Homo sapiens: one gene and its partners. The protein of the gene in region 4 interacts with the protein of the main gene of each other region in a biochemical or structural test. Each region holds a gene or a part of one and is shown on either strand. Other genes may lie near its edges.

Region 1 (4,616 bases), on a different chromosome or scaffold from region 4:
GAACAACATAATAAATACTTCCCGAGGCCTCATTCCATGAAATCTAGGTGCTTGGGTACCCAAGGAGTCAGGAGGGGTGATTTTATCATGAATATTGAAGCAGAACAGCCCTGCTCTGACTCACAGTCTGTTTTCCTTCAACCGGGATCCCCAGAGGCATTGTTAAAAAACGCTCCCGCTGTGTCTTGTGAATAAAAGATGGCTTTAGGGCAGCACAGAATGAGCTGCTGCCTGGGCTAGGAAACATCCCCTGTCCAAACCTTCATGCTTTATCTGGACACAAGGGCAGAGGCCACACTAGCACTTCAGGACAGAGAGTGACAGGCAAACAGTGCCCGGTTCTGTGGTGGATGACACAAAGGCTGGTGCGGAAGAAGGGCTGAACCCCGGGGAGGCCTGACGCCTGTCAGTAATGAGATCATGAAAACCAGTTCTGAGTTGCTTCCATGTGGCCCCACGAATATCTTTATTCCCTGGGTCTGTGCCTGGGGTGGGCCTCAGATCCCATAGATCAGAGTGAAGGGGCTGTCACATTTACTTGTCATTTGGTAATTTTCAGTGAATTAGGGGTATGGAGTTTCCATCTGCCATCTGGCCTCACTCTGGTAACCATGGTAACCACCATCTGCCTGACTTAATACTATTAAGTCCTGTGCCAAAAGAGCACTGGACAGGGTGTTGGGACCAGGGAGCTGGTCATCCTTTACTGGTCACCCTGGACAAGGGCTCTGACCTTGCTGTGTCTCAGTCTCTTTCTCTGTATAACAGCAGATTTGGTCTGAATGTCTTTAAGGTGCCTTTCTCTTAGGAAGAGAATGCCACTCTGGGGAGAAATTATCTGAGATCATCAGCAGCATTTATAGTCTGAGGACCTGGTCAGCATTTCTTCTGTCTCCTGCATGTGGAGTTAAAAGTGTTACCTGTCTGGAGACAAAGAGAATTGCCTGTGAATTAACGGCTGAGGAAAGCAGTTATAAAAACGAGTGATAGGAACTAGCAAAAGGAAAGAGACAGGACTGTTTAAGTGCCACAGGGCGGAAACCAACTGTTCCGAGTGAAAGGGACCTCAACAATGACTCCACTGGGGCTGATATGGCCAGAGAGGGGAAGGGACCCGTCCAGGGCCACTCAGGGAGCCAGCGGCAGCACAGATGCACCCCCAGCCAGCTCTGTCCTCCATGGGGAGCTTCAGCTAGGAACAGCCAATGGTGACTTTCCTGTGCTCAACTGGCCACACACTGGTTTTACATTTCCCAGGACTGGAGGCTTCCTGCCCCATCTCCAACAACCCATTGCGTCTCCTGGACTTGGGTACATCTACCTGAACTACTTGAGAGGAAAGACTACTAGATACTTCTTAAGGCTTGGAAAGGTCTCACCCCACCCCAGGCTTCTTTCTTGAAGCTAAGTCATTACACTGACTTAGGCACTAAAGTCTGGACTTGGTCTCTGGGCTCAGGCCAGAATTATTTCCCAGAAGCCTGAACTCCAGGCCGAAACCCAGGCTCCTTGGGACTCACTGGCCACCTTCTCACTCACCCTAAACTCAGCACTGCCCACTCCAGGCAAAGTACACAGCGGCACTTCAAAACCTAGTGGGTGGAATACACTCATGCTTAGGAAGCCGGTAAAGCAGTGCTAACGTTTTGGTTTCTTTTTGTTTGGTTTTCAAAAGGTACATAAAGAGGGTGGGCAACTATAGCACTCAGAGATTATTTTACTGTGATGTTAATGAAGCTTAAGTTTCTAAGTCCCTAGCATTTCATAATAAGTTTCTAAGTCCCTAGCAGTTCTATTCCTTTACTTAAGGCAGGACTCTCCAAATTATATATGTTTTAGAAGCACGAAACCTGAGTCTGCCCCTAATAGCACCACAATCTTTTCAGACCTTACGTCTCCAAAGGTCTTACTTCTCCTGGATGGAGCTCCCTCAGCATCCCAGCTCAGCCCCTTCCCACACCGGGGGCCCTGGTGCTCTGGTGCTGTGGCCTGGTGACTACTGATTCCCCAGTCTGGAACTCATCCTCCTCCTGCATCCTCAACTTCCCTTCCTCCCCTATCCTCTACTTCCCTTCCTCCCCCAACCTCAACTTCCCTTCCTCCCCATTCAAACAATCCACCTAGCGCTGGATACCTGGGAACTCGGATCCCCCTCCTTAACTCCCAGTCTCCTGCTGGGCAAACATACCATGCCTACAAATAAGTGACTGCATCAGCAGGTACTTAAGTACCAAAAGGGGTAGCAGGCTCACCAAAAATTCGACTAGCACAGTGAGTGGCGTCTCCAAGGATTCTCGCCCCAGTCTCTCTGAGCACGAGGAGAGATATGAAATACTGCTCCCTAAGGGGAAACTGAGTGCCAGGCAGCGCCGTCCACCACTGGGCAGGGGGATCCTTCGCTCCACACCCCAGAGGGTTGGAATCCCTCCTTCTCTACCCACCCAATCCCCGACCCTGACTCACCGAACTCGCAAGGGCCGTCGCGCGCCTTGTGCAGGTGACCGGGGTGCGCGCGGGGCGTGTGCCGAGCGCGCAGGCGCAGCGCGCAGACGCTGGGGTACGAGCGACCGTCGGAGCCGCAGACGGTGCCGCGCTGCGCGCACACGCAGAGCCCGGTGCCCTCGGGCGCTGCCCCAGCGGCCTGGCTCGCGCATACCAGGCCGGGGCCACAGCGCCCGCCGGCGCGGCCCCCGCAGCTCGCGCCCTCGGCTCCCAGGCAGCGGGCGCAGCAGCCGCACTCGTCGAGCGCCGAGATCCCGGGCGCCGGGCAGGGCGCAGGCGCCGGGCAGCCCTCTGGCCGGCACGGACCACACTTGGGGCGCCGGCCGCCCACGTCGCGGATCCCAAGGCTCGGGGACAGCGGCGGCAGCAGCGGCAGCAGCAGCAGAAGCAGCAGCGGCAAGAGCAGAGACAAGCGCGGCATGGCTTGCTCCGGGACAGCGGCGGCGCCTCTGCTTCGCGCTCCGCTCCGCGCCCGCCGAGCAGTCACCGCTCCCGCCCCGCGGCCGCTGATTGGCCGGGCCTGCACCGCGGGGCGCCCGCAGACCGCTGCTCCAGCCCGGGACCCGCGCGGTGCCCGCGGCCCGGGTCTCCGAGCTGGAGGGTCGCCCCGAGAGCAGCTCTCCGACCTCCGATTGGACTCTTGAGGGAACCGAGACCCAGTCGGGGCGACAACTTGCCCGAGGTCGCTATGGCAGAGTCAGGATTGGATAACCGTACGGTCTCCGGATCCAAGGCTGGCTCCAGATAGTATGCCCGTAAATCCTCCCAGAAGGATGCGCTATTTTATTTAATTTTATTTTGCATTCAGTAGTTTTCAAAGTTTTATTTTATAAAGAGAATATATGGTTTAAAATGTAGATTTTACATATACATCTAAGGATGAAAAGAGGGTTACCCTACCACCTTGTATCCCCATCCTCCAACTCGGCTTCCAGAGGCCACTCTTGCTATCGGGTTTTTGTATATCTTTTCAGAAATTTTCTCTATGCCTATAAAAGTACATGTGCCTAAAAAAGCCCCTTCCTTTAAAACACACACACTCTGTTTCTCTCTCACACACACAGAGTAGCGTGCCATACACATTAGTCTGCACTTGGTTTTTGCACTTACAGTGTTTCACAGTTTCCCCACCTCTTGTCATCTGTGAAACTGGGTTTCTTATACAATCAATGGGAGCATAGTTCATTGGCTCTGTGAGTGTGTTTCTTAATGCTGCATAAAGTCATGGTACATCTCCGTCCACAGTGACTTTGTTGTGATGAGATATGGTGATATATTTTGGAGTTCATACAGAGTGGCCTTTCCACAGGGTTTAGTTGCAGTTATTTAACCACTTATTTTCCATCCTTTGGTTAATACGAATAATGCTTTGATGAAGTCTTGGTGCACAAGGGTCAGTGTACCTGTGGCTTACTGGGGAATGCATGTTGGAAAGATGCAGTTTCTTGTAGTCAGTTATTCATGCCGCCGTTGCGCCTTCTCTGGGCCAGGCTCTGTGCACACCATCCTGCCTGAGTTCTGGCAGGGCACCCAGACGAGAAACCTAAGAGAGTCTTGGCTGCTGGGATTTGATGTGTTGCTGGGTAAATGCACTGGATGGAGGGAGGGACTCGCTGAGCAGGTTTTATAGGAGACTTTTCCTGCCTTTACTGGCCACCCCTCATGTGTCTTGTGCTCTATTGTTTTTTCTTTGCTGAACTCCTGGAGATGGAGAAAGCCTCTTGCAGCCTGGGAAGACCAGCTACACCGTTCTTGGGTGGGGTTCATTTTGCTTTTCAAGCCCAGTTCCTTCCCAGTTTGCAGTCTTCTTATCCCCAGAAAGGAGCCTCTTCTGAGGCCACTTTATGTGGTGGTCAGAGGAGGGCCATCTGCCTGGTCCACGCCAGGCCTTACCTTACAATCAGCCACACAGAGCAGGGGCGGTTAGGCACCATGAAGGGGTGGTGGTAAGGAATAAATATAACAATGTTGGTAATGCACTCAGCGCAGCTCTCAGAACCTATCAACAGTGACTTTCAACCTGGAGGCTGCTGTCTTTACCAGGAGTGGCCTTTTAAAGTGCTCTCACCGCTTGACCCCTCTGTGCTCTTCCAGGAATCTCTCCTAAAAAAATG
Region 2 (4,108 bases), on a different chromosome or scaffold from region 4:
GATGATTGGGGGGGAACAGATATATTAGATCTGCCCTCTATTTAGTGCTTCAACTTTAGTACAATTAATTTCTAAATTATGCCATAGTTATTGGTGCAAAGATAGACACATAGACCAGTGGAAAAGAACAGAGAGTCCAGAAATAGACGCACACATATACAGTGGGTCTTACAGATTTCCACAAAGGCATTATTATGATTCATTAGGAAAAAGATGGTCTTTTCAACAAATGGTGCTGAAGCAATTGGATGTCCTTTTAGGGGAGGAAAAATGAAACTTGACCTCTGCCTCATAGCACACACAAAAATTAATTCAAGATGGAGCAAAAACTTAAATGTGAAAAGTAAAACCATAAAGCTTGTAGAAGAAAACAGGAGATCTTCATAGCCTTGGGCTAGGCAAAAATTTTCTTAAACAGGACACGAAAAGCACTAACCACAGAAAAGAAAACTTGATAAATTGGACTATACTAAAACTAAGAACATCTGTTTTAAAATCCCATGGGAAAAATCCATAGCATGTCTTCAAGATCTCTGGCAGAAAATCAGGCTGGAACTTGCCCATTAGCACTCCAGAATCTGCCCCCTGCCCAAGACCGATGACCCTGCTACCTGTATTGGCAATAGGGAGATGGACACAGGTTAAAGTAAGTAGGTTTTGGCAGGGCTGAGGCCCTCAGATCCTCACAATAAAATTGTCTTGCATTCCTTGTGTGGTTTGGATATGAGAGAAGCAGCTTTGTTCCCGAGCTCCCCCTCAAATCTCTGAAAACTGGTATGCTCTTCTCAGAACAATCCTTTGAGATCCCCTGAGCTTTGAAGTCCTCCTGCCAAGTCTGTGTGTGGGAAGGAGAACAGAGCAGCATGAGGGCCATCAGAGAGGTGGGCGAAGGCAGTTCAAAGCCCAGCCAGATCCGGCTCTGTGGTGTCCAAACCCTTGGGGTCCCATAGCCCTAGAGGAAGCCCGGGATAGGGTGAGGCCCAGCCCTTTGCAGGGTTCTGTATTGCTGCATCCAGACTAGGAAATGTCTGAGACAGAGCCAGAAACGTAAATACTGCACCACTGTGCTCACCACATTCATGTTTGCAGCAGAAGAGCCAAGCCCCCTGGCCAGGATATATGCTTCCTATTCAGACCTATGGTTTGGAGGGAAGGAAGCATGAAATGTATTTAGAGCTTTCCAAACTTTTGATTGTTTTGCACATTCCTACAAAAATAAAAATATCCCATGAGATTAAAAAAAATCAGCTTCTAATGCTTTAGATGAGTGGGAAAATCTTGCACACTGGGGTCATTTCCTTTCTGTTTCAAGAAATTAATATTGTGCTGGAAATAGCCTGTTGCAGAAGGGGAGACTTTATGTCCTTTGAATGCTGATTATGCCAGAAAACTTTCCAGTCCTAAAGGGGAGGTTGTCCCTTTCCCAGGACTCTGATGCAAGATGACCCTGCAGTTTGTACTTTGCTAGGATAGGAGACCCAAGTCAGCAGAGATTTAAAATTCAGAAGGGATCATTAATTTATTCATTCAAGAAACCATGCTAAGCATGGAATAAGAGCCAGGTTAGGTTCTGGAGTCTCACACTGCCCCACATGAGGATCCCAGACTGCCAGCTCCATGACCCTCCTCTGCGGACGGTCCCAAGTCTTTCTGAAGGCCCCTGGTGATTGAACCCTGGCATTCAGAATTAGCAGAAGTGACATACTAATTACCAGTAACTAAAAAGTTGGTGTTCACATCTCTATTGCAGATGCCGGGAAGCCAGGCCGTCAGGGGACAGGCGCAGTCAGCAAGCACCCGCTCTCTCGGTATCTGTTGGCTTCCACAGTTTTGTGTTTCAGAGCCAAACCAGAAATCACCCAGGGGGTTACTTGCATCAGCTCTGGAAAATGTGTAAAGGATTGAAGTCCTGAGACTTTCCCATAATGTCTTATTTAGGCATCAGTCTCCCTCAGTTGATTAGAGCAGGAATCAGCAAATTTCTTTATAAAAGGCCAGTGACAGTGACTATTTTAGCCATACAGTCTCAGCCACAACTGCTCTAGCAGCCAGAGACCACAGGAAACAAATAAGTGTGGCTGTGTTCCAACAGAACTTTATTTTATGGACATTTCCTTTACAATTTTCACACGTCATGAAATATCCATCTTTTAATTTTTTTTCAACCATTTGAAACTGCAGGCCGGGCATAGTGGCTCACGCCTGTAATCCCAACACTTTGGGAGGCCAAGGTGGGGGGATCGCTTGAGCTCAGGGGTTCGAGACCAGCCTGGCCAACGTGGCAAAATGCTGTTTCTACTGAAAACACAAAAATTAGCTGGGCATGCACTTGTAGTCCTAGCTACTTGGGAGACTGAGTCATGGGAATTGCTTGAGCTTGAACCCGGGAGGCGGAGGTTGCCGTGAGCCAAGATCATGCCACTGCACTCCAGCCTGAGCAACAGAGTAAGGTTCTGTCTCAAAAAAATAAAATTTTTCTTAATTTAAAAAAACAAAAATCCAAACACCATTCTTAGCTCATAAGCCATGCAAAAACAGATGGCAGGCCAGATTTGGCCCACAGGCCATAGTTAGCTAACCCAGGACCAGAGAGTCATACCACTTTCATAGCAAAAAGGATACACATGGTTTGTGTTGACTCTGAGTAGGGAACTTCTCCAGAGGGTGCCATGATACAGAAGGTGGGGGGTGTGTTCCCTAATTGGGGGAATGGAGAAGCATCATTCTGGCCTCTCTCAGTGGCCCCATACCTGCTGACTCTATTTAGGCCGTGGCTTGAGGGTGCCCCCCACTTGCCAATGCCTCCTGCCAGGGACCTGGACACTGAGAACGCTGGGAAAGGGCCCTCTCCTTGGGGACCCTGGTCACACCCAATAGATCAGTCACTCTTCTTCCTTCTTACCAGCTGCCTCTCCTGAGCACACTGGAAGAAGGACCCCTGTACCACCTTCCTCGACACCCGGGCCTCTTCTGTTCAAAGGTGCCTCCTGGCCAGGCATGGTGGCTCACACCTGTAATCCCAGCAGTTGGGGAGGCTGAGGCAGGAGAATTACTTGAAGCCAGGAATTCGGGACCAGCCTGGGCAACATAGCAAGACCCCGTCTCTACAAAAATAAAAAATAAAAATTAACTGACATGGTGGTGCACGCCTATAGTCCCAGCTACTCGGGAGGCTGGGGTGGGAGGATCGCTGGAGACCAGGAGTTTGAGGCTGCAGTGAGCTATGATCAAGCCACTGCGCTCCAGCCTGGGTGGCAGAATGAGATTCTGTATCAAAAAAATAATAATAAAATTAAATTAAAAATAAAGATGTCCCTTCCAATCCCCTGACGCACACAGCACTCCACATGTTTCTTTTCTTCCCTGCCTCATCACCCTTTTCAACCTTAGATCCTAAGCTTCTTGAGGCAGAGACTTCCATCTTGTCTGGGTGCTTAGCACATTTTCAAATATTCTCTTAGATTTTTTTTCTTCATTACCCATGGAGCGGTTGCTTGTTGCCTTTCCAACCCAAAATAGAAATAGTGGTAAACAAAAGAAGAAAAACATTGAACATTTTGGAACTAAAATTTTATTACTACTGGAAAAGTCCCAGATAATAAAAAAACAGCTGGTAAATTAGCACTCATTTAAGCATGGTCTGGGGAAGAAGAAAATTTTAATAACACATTTTTCTTCCTAATTGTTTTTGTTTGTTTAGATTTATGCATTCCCAAAGTGGACCTTAAAATCATGTTGGTGGCAGGAGGAAGCCAGTGTGGTCTTTGAAATTTGCTTCAGATAATCCATCAAGGGGATGGCCTCATAAACAAAATTATTATTTTCTCCCTAAGATGCTGACTCATGTGAAGGACTGTTTAAAAGATGACTTTGGCTTTGTGCCCTCTCCTGCAGGTCCTTCCATAGTGACGCCCCCCAAGGACATCTGGAATGTCACTGGTGCCCAGGTGTACTTGAGCTGTGAGGTCATCGGAATCCCGACACCTGTCCTCATCTGGAACAAGGTCTGTGGCACAGACTTTAAGAGACATCCTAGGCTGACAAGCTTCTCTTGCACTGCACAAGGATGGTAAAACGTTAAATCCTCAGCCTGCTTTGTTGACTGCGG
Region 3 (3,488 bases), on a different chromosome or scaffold from region 4:
GGTCTCAAACTCCCGGGCTCAAGCCATCCTCCCACCTCTGCTTCCCAAGGTGGTGGGATGACAGGTGTGAGCCATCACACGTGGCTGGTTTTGTCATTTCTCAATGCATATGTATATATGCACCTTTCATTTTACTGAATAAAATGGATTATCAGTTTCCAAAGATTTCATGACAGTGCCATCACTATCCGTACTATAAAATTTATAAAAATTTATTACATACTGCTCTATTTTATTCTCTAATTATTTTATCAATGAGATTATAATTTCCTGAACTGTAAAGAGATATTATCTTTCCTTAACATTTTTACACCTGTGTTCGTTCCTAGAATGCTGTTTGGCCCTCAAACCTTGACCTTCACCCATGGTGGTTTCTCGGGGATGCTAGCTAGGGTCTACTTACGGGAGGTTGAGCACTTTTTCAGATTAGTAATGCCTGCGACATACTGTGGTCCCAAATATTTTTCATATGTTGTTTTGCCATGGAGTCTGGCCAGACACTCAGTGTTGTCATTGAACAGAAGGTTTTTGGTTTCAGACTGGAATAAGCAAAACTTGTCCGGGCAGTCAGATCCATTTCTCCCAAATTTAGCCTGCGACAAAAGGGCAGACAGTGAGTAGCTAAGGAAAAGAGGAATTTATGGGTTAAAGGAGGCAAAGGGGTATTTCTTCCACCCAAGAACAGCCCTGAGAAAACCATGGGGCAGAAGGAGCTGAGTTCTGGAGTCATTCCACCTCCTTAGTGGAGTCCCCCACCCCACACTCCTGGTGGCAGGCCCGCCTTGGGCAGCATCCAGGCCTCGCACCACTTCTGGTCCTACCTCCTACCATCTGCCATCTTTCCTTCCTTCTTAACCTGTGACCTTTTCCCATACAACTTCTTATGGGTGACAAGGCAACAATGGAGGGGTTTTGAGATCTGCCCTCACAAGTCAATTGCTCAGGACATTCTAATATGCAGCTCTTCTAGAGAGGCAGGCTGCTAGGAAAACCCAGGCTCAGCCACTAACCAGCTCAGTGTGCAGGTCGGTCACCCTGCCTCCCTCACACAGTTCCTGCTCTGTCCCAGGCTCCCATGTGGGGAGACTGAGACCCAAACCCCTCAGTCACGGCAGCTCTCTCACCAGCACCACTGTGTGTGCACATTAAGAGCTCCATAAAGGCCAGTTATGGTGGCCAGTCTTGTTATTCCTGAGTTGTTTTCTTCAAAAGCACACAGAGACATGATGTTATATGATAAAAATAGAAGTTCTAATAAAATCCCAGATTTTAAGAAAATTTTGGGATTTCGTTCAAATCACATTTAGAGAGCCCTAAATCTATAGGGCACCTTCTGAGTTTGCTGTTTTAGAGGCCTGGCCTAGAGCACTGTTCACTCGGCCCAGGTTCAGGAAATGTCACCTGAGTAAAAAGCACTATACTAATGCATGTGGGAGGAAGGCTCAGTGGCTTCCTCATTTGCCAGAAGAACAGCAGGAGGGAAAAAGACAGCCTCTGAGCCAGGCAGTGATGGCAACAAGGCCAGGGCACAGAGTCTCAGCAGAAATGGAGTGAGTCCCAGAAAGCCCAGAGTCAAAAGCCTCTGTTGTTCTTGTTGACACTCTGGGCAACGCCACAGCATGAAGCCAATACTCTCACCATGAGCTTCAAGTAGAGGACTAGAGAGGATCGAGTGGGCTGGTGCACCTAGCTCTGTGATCTCCTCACCTAACATGAGCCCACACAGCTAAGAAAGCACTAGAAGCCCTGTGGTCCATACCTGTTGGTGGAGCAACACCTGTTTCAGGCGTTCCACCTTATCCATCCGAGACACCACGGCATGATTCGGGGCCATGGCAAGATGGCAGCTTCTAGCCTCAGTCACAGGCTTCCGTTTGCCATCGAGGCACAGCAGCGCAAAGTCTGCCAGCTTCAAATCCTTAGCCCATGCCTCATTGTTATTTCCTGGGGAGAAAAAGAAGGTGGCATCATCCACGCCTCCCCTGCTTAGCCAAGAAGTCTCTTCTGGGTGGGTGTGGCCATTCCACTGACCTCCCAAATGCACACACTGGGGTTGTGGTGATGTGAGGAACAGAGAAGGAGCTTCATCCTACACAAGCTGTACAAACTTCAAATATACCAAATATTAGTGCTGTGTCCATGCAATGGAATGTTATTCAGCAATAAAAGGGAGTGAAGTTCTGGTACATCCTGCAATATGCATGAACCTCGAAAACGATGCTAAGTGAAAGAAGCCAGTCACAAAAGACCACACAATAGGCTGGGCACGGTGGCTCATGCCTGTAATCCCAGCCCTTTGGAGGCCAAGGTGGGAGAATCACTTGAAGCTAGGAGTTCATGACCAGCTTGGGCAACATAGCAAGACCTCATCTCAAAAAAAAAAACCCACCACATATTATATGACTCCATTTATATGAAATGTCCAGAATAGGCCAACCTATGGAGACAGAAAGTGGATTGATGGTTGCCAATGCTGAAGAAGGATAGGGCAATGACTGATAATAGGTGCAAGGGTTTCTTTATGGGAGGATACAAGCGTTCTAGAGTTGGATTGTGTTGATGGCTGCACAACTCTGTGAATGTGCTGGAGATCACTGAATTGTACACTTTGCATGGGTGGATTTTTTAGTATATGAATTCTACCTCAATAAAGCTGTTTAGAGTTCTTATTTTTTTAAAGAAGAAAACCCTCCACCTATGCCATATTTTTCAGTGAGTTCCAGAAAAAGAATAGATGGTTTACATTCAAGGAGAAATTGGTTTCTCCTCCCTTTCATATTCAAATGCTATTAGTGTAACCAGAGAAAGGAAAGGAACTTTTATAGGTTTATCAAATATATACAGCCAATTCTAACAAAATACAGTTGTAAAGTACCGGAGAAAGTTAAAATTAAATTTGACATCAATCTGATCCCTGGAGATTACTTCAGTTAATGGCTTGTAAATTCTAAATGTAATTGTATGCATGTCTATGTTTGTGCAGATGCCGGCTCATTGTTCCGGCTCCCGTTTGTCTCTCTGCTCTCTCCCTTTAAGAAAGCACTTTATTCATTCTCTTGGATTCCTCTATTTGATATTGAAATAATTTCAAATTTACATGTCTTGTTTTAATCTCTGTCCCAAGAGACACTAGAAGGAGCAGAAGCAGAAGGGAGAAGTGGCTGAGACTGCAGTGATTACTGAAGGAGGGAGGCCGAAAGTGGAGACAGTTCTTTCTCAGGAAACAGAATAGCAAGTCACCTGCTGAGACTTGGGGGTTGGAATGCTGAAGTGGGGCTAAGGAGACAGATGCAGATTGGAAGGTAGCAAATGGCTGAGGACCAGGAGAGAGAGTGATTGTTCAAACATTGGCTGGAAGATTATCTTCCATCATCTGCAACCACCTGTAATTTTGTTCCCACTAACTCCCAAGGAGTCTCCAGACCAAGGCTCACATGGGGATGAATGAAGGCCTCTACTTCCTTTTTCATAAAGGGAGGCTTCATTTG
Region 4 (4,108 bases):
GATACTGTTTTTACTAAAAGAAAACCTTGCACTGAATGTTTAAAACTTAAGTAGAAATATGGGGTGAATTTTACAGAAACAAATTTGAGTCAGTCACAGAAATGTTATGCTAAGTTAAATAAAACAGAAAAATTCCAAATCCCTCTTCTAAGTAGGGCAAGTCCTTCCCCATTTCTGCTTGCCGACTCTTTTGGAATGGTTTCCATCTGGGCTTGATCCTCATCTCTCACCTGTGGAATTGGCCCTGTCTGAAAGGGACATGGATGTGCCAATGGGCCATGGGCTGCCCGGGTGGTAGAGATGACTGCGAGCTGGAGAAGCGAGGCTGCTGGAGTGGAAATGATGGTGAGGGTTATCGAGGGAATGGATGGGATGGGCACTAATCACAGCTGTGAATGAACACAAGACAGAGAAATGCTTAACATGCTTGCACAAACACACACAAATCACAGTTTAAGAGCAAAGTCACCCCCTTCCCACCTCCCATACAATCCAAACACTCCCTTGGTTTTTTGGTGGCAGCTGGCTAGATCTGGTCAATTAGCCATTGATTTTTACGTTGTTTTTTAAAAATGAAGATACTCTTTTGCATATGTCTACATATATATAGAAAAAAAGGAATATACACTAAAATGTTAACAGTTATTATCTTGCAGGGAAGAGTGGTCAGGATTAAAATAATATTTTTCTTTTGGCTTATCTGTATTTTCCAATTCTACTATAATAAACATGGATTACATGAGTTATTACAAGTATCTATTTGAATATGTCACAAAATATAAATCCATAAGCCAACACATAAATTTTCTATTTTGTCCTGCTAAAAGGATAGAAAGAAGTCCCTTCTTTTTCGAGTACATTCCTAATTCATTCTGCCTTTGTTAAAACTGCTGAATGAAGCATTTAATGGGTATTTAGGCCAAATAAATAAGTAGCTGTTTAATCGGCTTTCATGTCTTAAAATAAATGCAAATGGAATTGAACTCTGATGGTCCCATCTAGTACTAAAAGCATGAACCACTGGCTGATGGCACCATCTTTTACTGCTTCCAGTCTGGGGACTCAGACATACCCATCTGCATGTAAGAGAATAAATGGCTCTTTCCTTCCCACACTGGCTAAGGATTCAATTAACTGCGTTTAGCTAAAGAATCTGAAATTTCCACACAGATTTCACATACTACTTTCTATGAAGACAGAGATTCCATGTACTACTTTCTATGAGGCTTCATTATCCATCTGAGATGGAAACAGATAAAATTAGAAGCCCAGAGTCTGAGAATAAACTTTTCTGAGGAACTCCCTTGGAGTGGTTGTAGAAATGGCACGTTTAAGATCAAGATAACCAGCTCTACCCCCACCAAACAGGCAAATAGGCCAAAGCTGACTAACAATACTGGGAATCTTTTTTTCTCCAAACAAAGGCTTCATGAACTTAATAATACTACTTAATTAACACTTAGTGGCCTATTGAAATGTCTTCTGTCCCCAAGGATCTCCCTAAAGTCTTTGTGGGGCTATTCAACATTACTCTGGTGAAAAGAAATCCTGGTCAACAAAATGGGTGCCTTTACTTTCCAGCTATCCCTTGTCCTGGCCACATGCAAGCAAGCAGGTGGCATGACTGGGACCCTTGAGCACTGCTGACCCTTCCTTCCCTTCTCAAGGCCTGAGGAACAAAAAAGGGGCTTTCCCTCAGGTGCTGCTCTTGGGGACCAGAGGCTCCAGGTTGTGCCCGGGAATAAAACAACAGAGGAAAGCTGTCTGAGGAGGGCTCTTGAGGTAACTGGGGAGTCAGCAACTCTAGGGGAAGACAGGTAGTTTTTAGAAGTAGGTGCTTCAGACTCAGTGTTTTCCAGAATTCAGGCTGGGGTAGGGGGAATAAACCTGATTTTTACCTAGGAAAGTACAATTTGAAAGCATTTTAGGACTCTCACAAGGGAAAAACAAAATTGACTTTTTCCCTTTTATAAGGCATTTCCAGTCTTTCTAGGTAAGTAAATAAAAAAAAATAAAGCAGTGTGAATGTGCCTGCCTAGGATATAGTAGGAAATCAGCAGCTGTTAGCTGACTCTGAACTTGTTGCTTCAGTGCATGGCCCTGGATGGAGCCATGTCCCAGCACCAGCAAACCCTTCCTGGCACTGCTCAGTCATTTAAGACCAGGGAAGGTGGGGAGTGGGTATATGGCTCCTGCAGCATTCCAGGGCCCAGAGCTCAGGGAATACCAGCTTGTGAAACAGAACTGTAGCCATGCGGGTTTTAAAAACAGTATCTGAAAACCTAAAGACCACAAGTGGATCTTATGGTTGCAGGTTTTTAAAAGATTCCACTTACCCACCCAACTGTTAAGGCACAAATTAAATAATATTGTATATTGGTGCAAACTCCTTCCCCAACATCAAAAAAAGAAGAATGATATCAACTGGACAACATATCTTTTTTACTTAACATATTTAAAAGTAATACATCTAGAAATAAAGATAGTAAAATTTTACAAGTTTTCAAAATAAGCCAGTTCAGGTAGGAACTCAAGTCTTATACAAAACAAACAAATAAGAGTATAGTGCTAGCATCTTCTTGATCAATCAGAAGCAACTGGGATGGATTAATTTACTCTTCTTGGGCATTTGTATCTTTAAACCTGGGAACCCCATCCAGGGCACCTCTTGTAAGAGGGAAACCATGGTTTTCCCCTGCATTTCCAAGTCCAGGCTTTTCTTTCCATCAAGGACCACAAGCATAAGCTACTTTGAGCTGAAATTACCTGTTAACAAATAGGGTATTACTCTTTCAAAGATGGTTTTTGTAATCCAGTATCTTACATGTTTGTGTACAGTGTTTGTGGGAGAGGGAATGCGTGTGCAGACATCCACGTGCTTGAAGCTTCCACCAAGAGGTTGGGGATTTGAGGAACTTTTCCAAGTGCACGATGTCATGGTGTACCTCGTTGCATGTATGATATTCATGGCTATTAAATCGCATCGTTTGTTGACAGATGGCTGAGAATTCCCTCAACTGCAAGCCCCACTGTGCTAGCTAGTCTGAAAGGCTTCACTTCCTTGAAAACAGTGACGAGAGAGGACATAGTAGTTTGAAAGAATCGGTTTGTCCCACTGCTTTCTGGTTTAATCATGATATTTATTTTGAATTTCAACTATTATTAAAAGAGGCTCAGAAACCTTTATGCTTATCAAAGTGAGGCACGAATCAAGAATGAAAAATGTTGTTTAAAAAATTCCGGCTGGGCGGGTGGTGGTGGCTCAGGCCTGTAATCCCAGCACTTTGGGAGGCCGAGTTGGGTGGATCATCTGAGGTCAGGAGTTTGAGACCAGCCTGGCCAATATGGTGAAACCCCGTGTCTACAAAAAACTAGCCAGGTGTGGTGGCGAGCACCTGTAATCCCAGCTGCTTGGGAGGCCGAGGCAGGAGAATTGCTTGAACCCGGGAGGTGGAGGCTGCAGTGAGCTGAGATCGTGACACTGCACTCCAGCCTTGGCGACACAGCAAGACTCTGACTCTGTCTCAAAAAAAAAAAAAAAAAAAAAAAAAAAATTCCACACAGTAAAACCTAAAGCTATTCTAAAATATAAAGTCTACTAATTTTATTTTTAAATTTTATTATTTTAATTAATTAATTTAGAGACTGGCTCTTGGCTCTGTTGCCCAAGCTGGAGTGCAATGGTGCAAAATCATAGCTCAATGCAACCTTAAACGCTGGGTTCAAGTAATCCTTCCATCTCAGCCTCCTGGGTAGCCTCAGCCTCTTGGGTAGCTGGGACTACAGGTTGTGTGCCACGATGCCTGGCTTTATTTTTTTTATTTTTTTTGAGACAGAGTCTCACTCTGTCACCCAGGCTGGAGTGCAACAGCACGATTTTGGCTCACTGCAACCTCTGCTTCCCAGGTTCAAGTGATTCTCATGCCTCAGCCACCTGAGTAGCTGGGATTATAGACATGTACCACCATACCTGGCTAATTTTTAATTTTATTTTTTTTGGTAGAGATGGGGTCCCACTACATTGCCCAGGCTGGTCTAGAACTCCTGGCCTCCAGCAATCCTCCCACTTTGGTCTCCCAAAACTCTAGGATTATAGGTGTGGGCCATC

The links.
Region 1: the proteins of NEO1 (region 4) and IGFBPL1 interact in a biophysical measurement, tested with the Homo sapiens proteins (one large-scale study listed by IntAct).
Region 2: the proteins of NEO1 (region 4) and IGFBP7 interact in a biophysical measurement, tested with the Homo sapiens proteins (one large-scale study listed by IntAct).
Region 3: the proteins of NEO1 (region 4) and LTF interact in a biophysical measurement, tested with the Homo sapiens proteins (one large-scale study listed by IntAct).

What each region holds. Positions count from the first base shown.
Region 1 is NC_000009.12:38,421,502-38,426,117, forward strand, and holds the start of IGFBPL1 (insulin-like growth factor-binding protein-like 1 precursor), read right to left. Parts: upstream 2,954-4,616; 5' UTR 2,924-2,953; coding exon 2,464-2,923; intron 1-2,463. UniProt on the Homo sapiens protein: IGF-binding proteins prolong the half-life of IGFs and have been shown to either inhibit or stimulate the growth promoting effects of the IGFs in cell culture. They alter the interaction of IGFs with their cell surface receptors.
Region 2 is NC_000004.12:57,040,720-57,044,827, reverse strand, and holds part of IGFBP7 (insulin-like growth factor-binding protein 7 isoform 1 precursor), read left to right. Parts: intron 1-3,894; coding exon 3,895-4,004; intron 4,005-4,108. UniProt on the Homo sapiens protein: Binds IGF1 and IGF2 with a relatively low affinity. Stimulates prostacyclin (PGI2) production. Stimulates cell adhesion. Acts as a ligand for CD93 to play a role in angiogenesis.
Region 3 is NC_000003.12:46,437,537-46,441,024, forward strand, and holds part of LTF (lactotransferrin isoform 1 preproprotein), read right to left. Parts: intron 1,945-3,488; coding exon 1,760-1,944; intron 594-1,759; coding exon 404-593; intron 1-403. UniProt on the Homo sapiens protein: Transferrins are iron binding transport proteins which can bind two Fe(3+) ions in association with the binding of an anion, usually bicarbonate. Lactoferricin binds to the bacterial surface and is crucial for the bactericidal functions.
Region 4 is NC_000015.10:73,289,671-73,293,778, reverse strand, and holds part of NEO1 (neogenin isoform 1 precursor), read right to left. Parts: intron 390-4,108; coding exon 231-389; intron 1-230. UniProt on the Homo sapiens protein: Multi-functional cell surface receptor regulating cell adhesion in many diverse developmental processes, including neural tube and mammary gland formation, myogenesis and angiogenesis.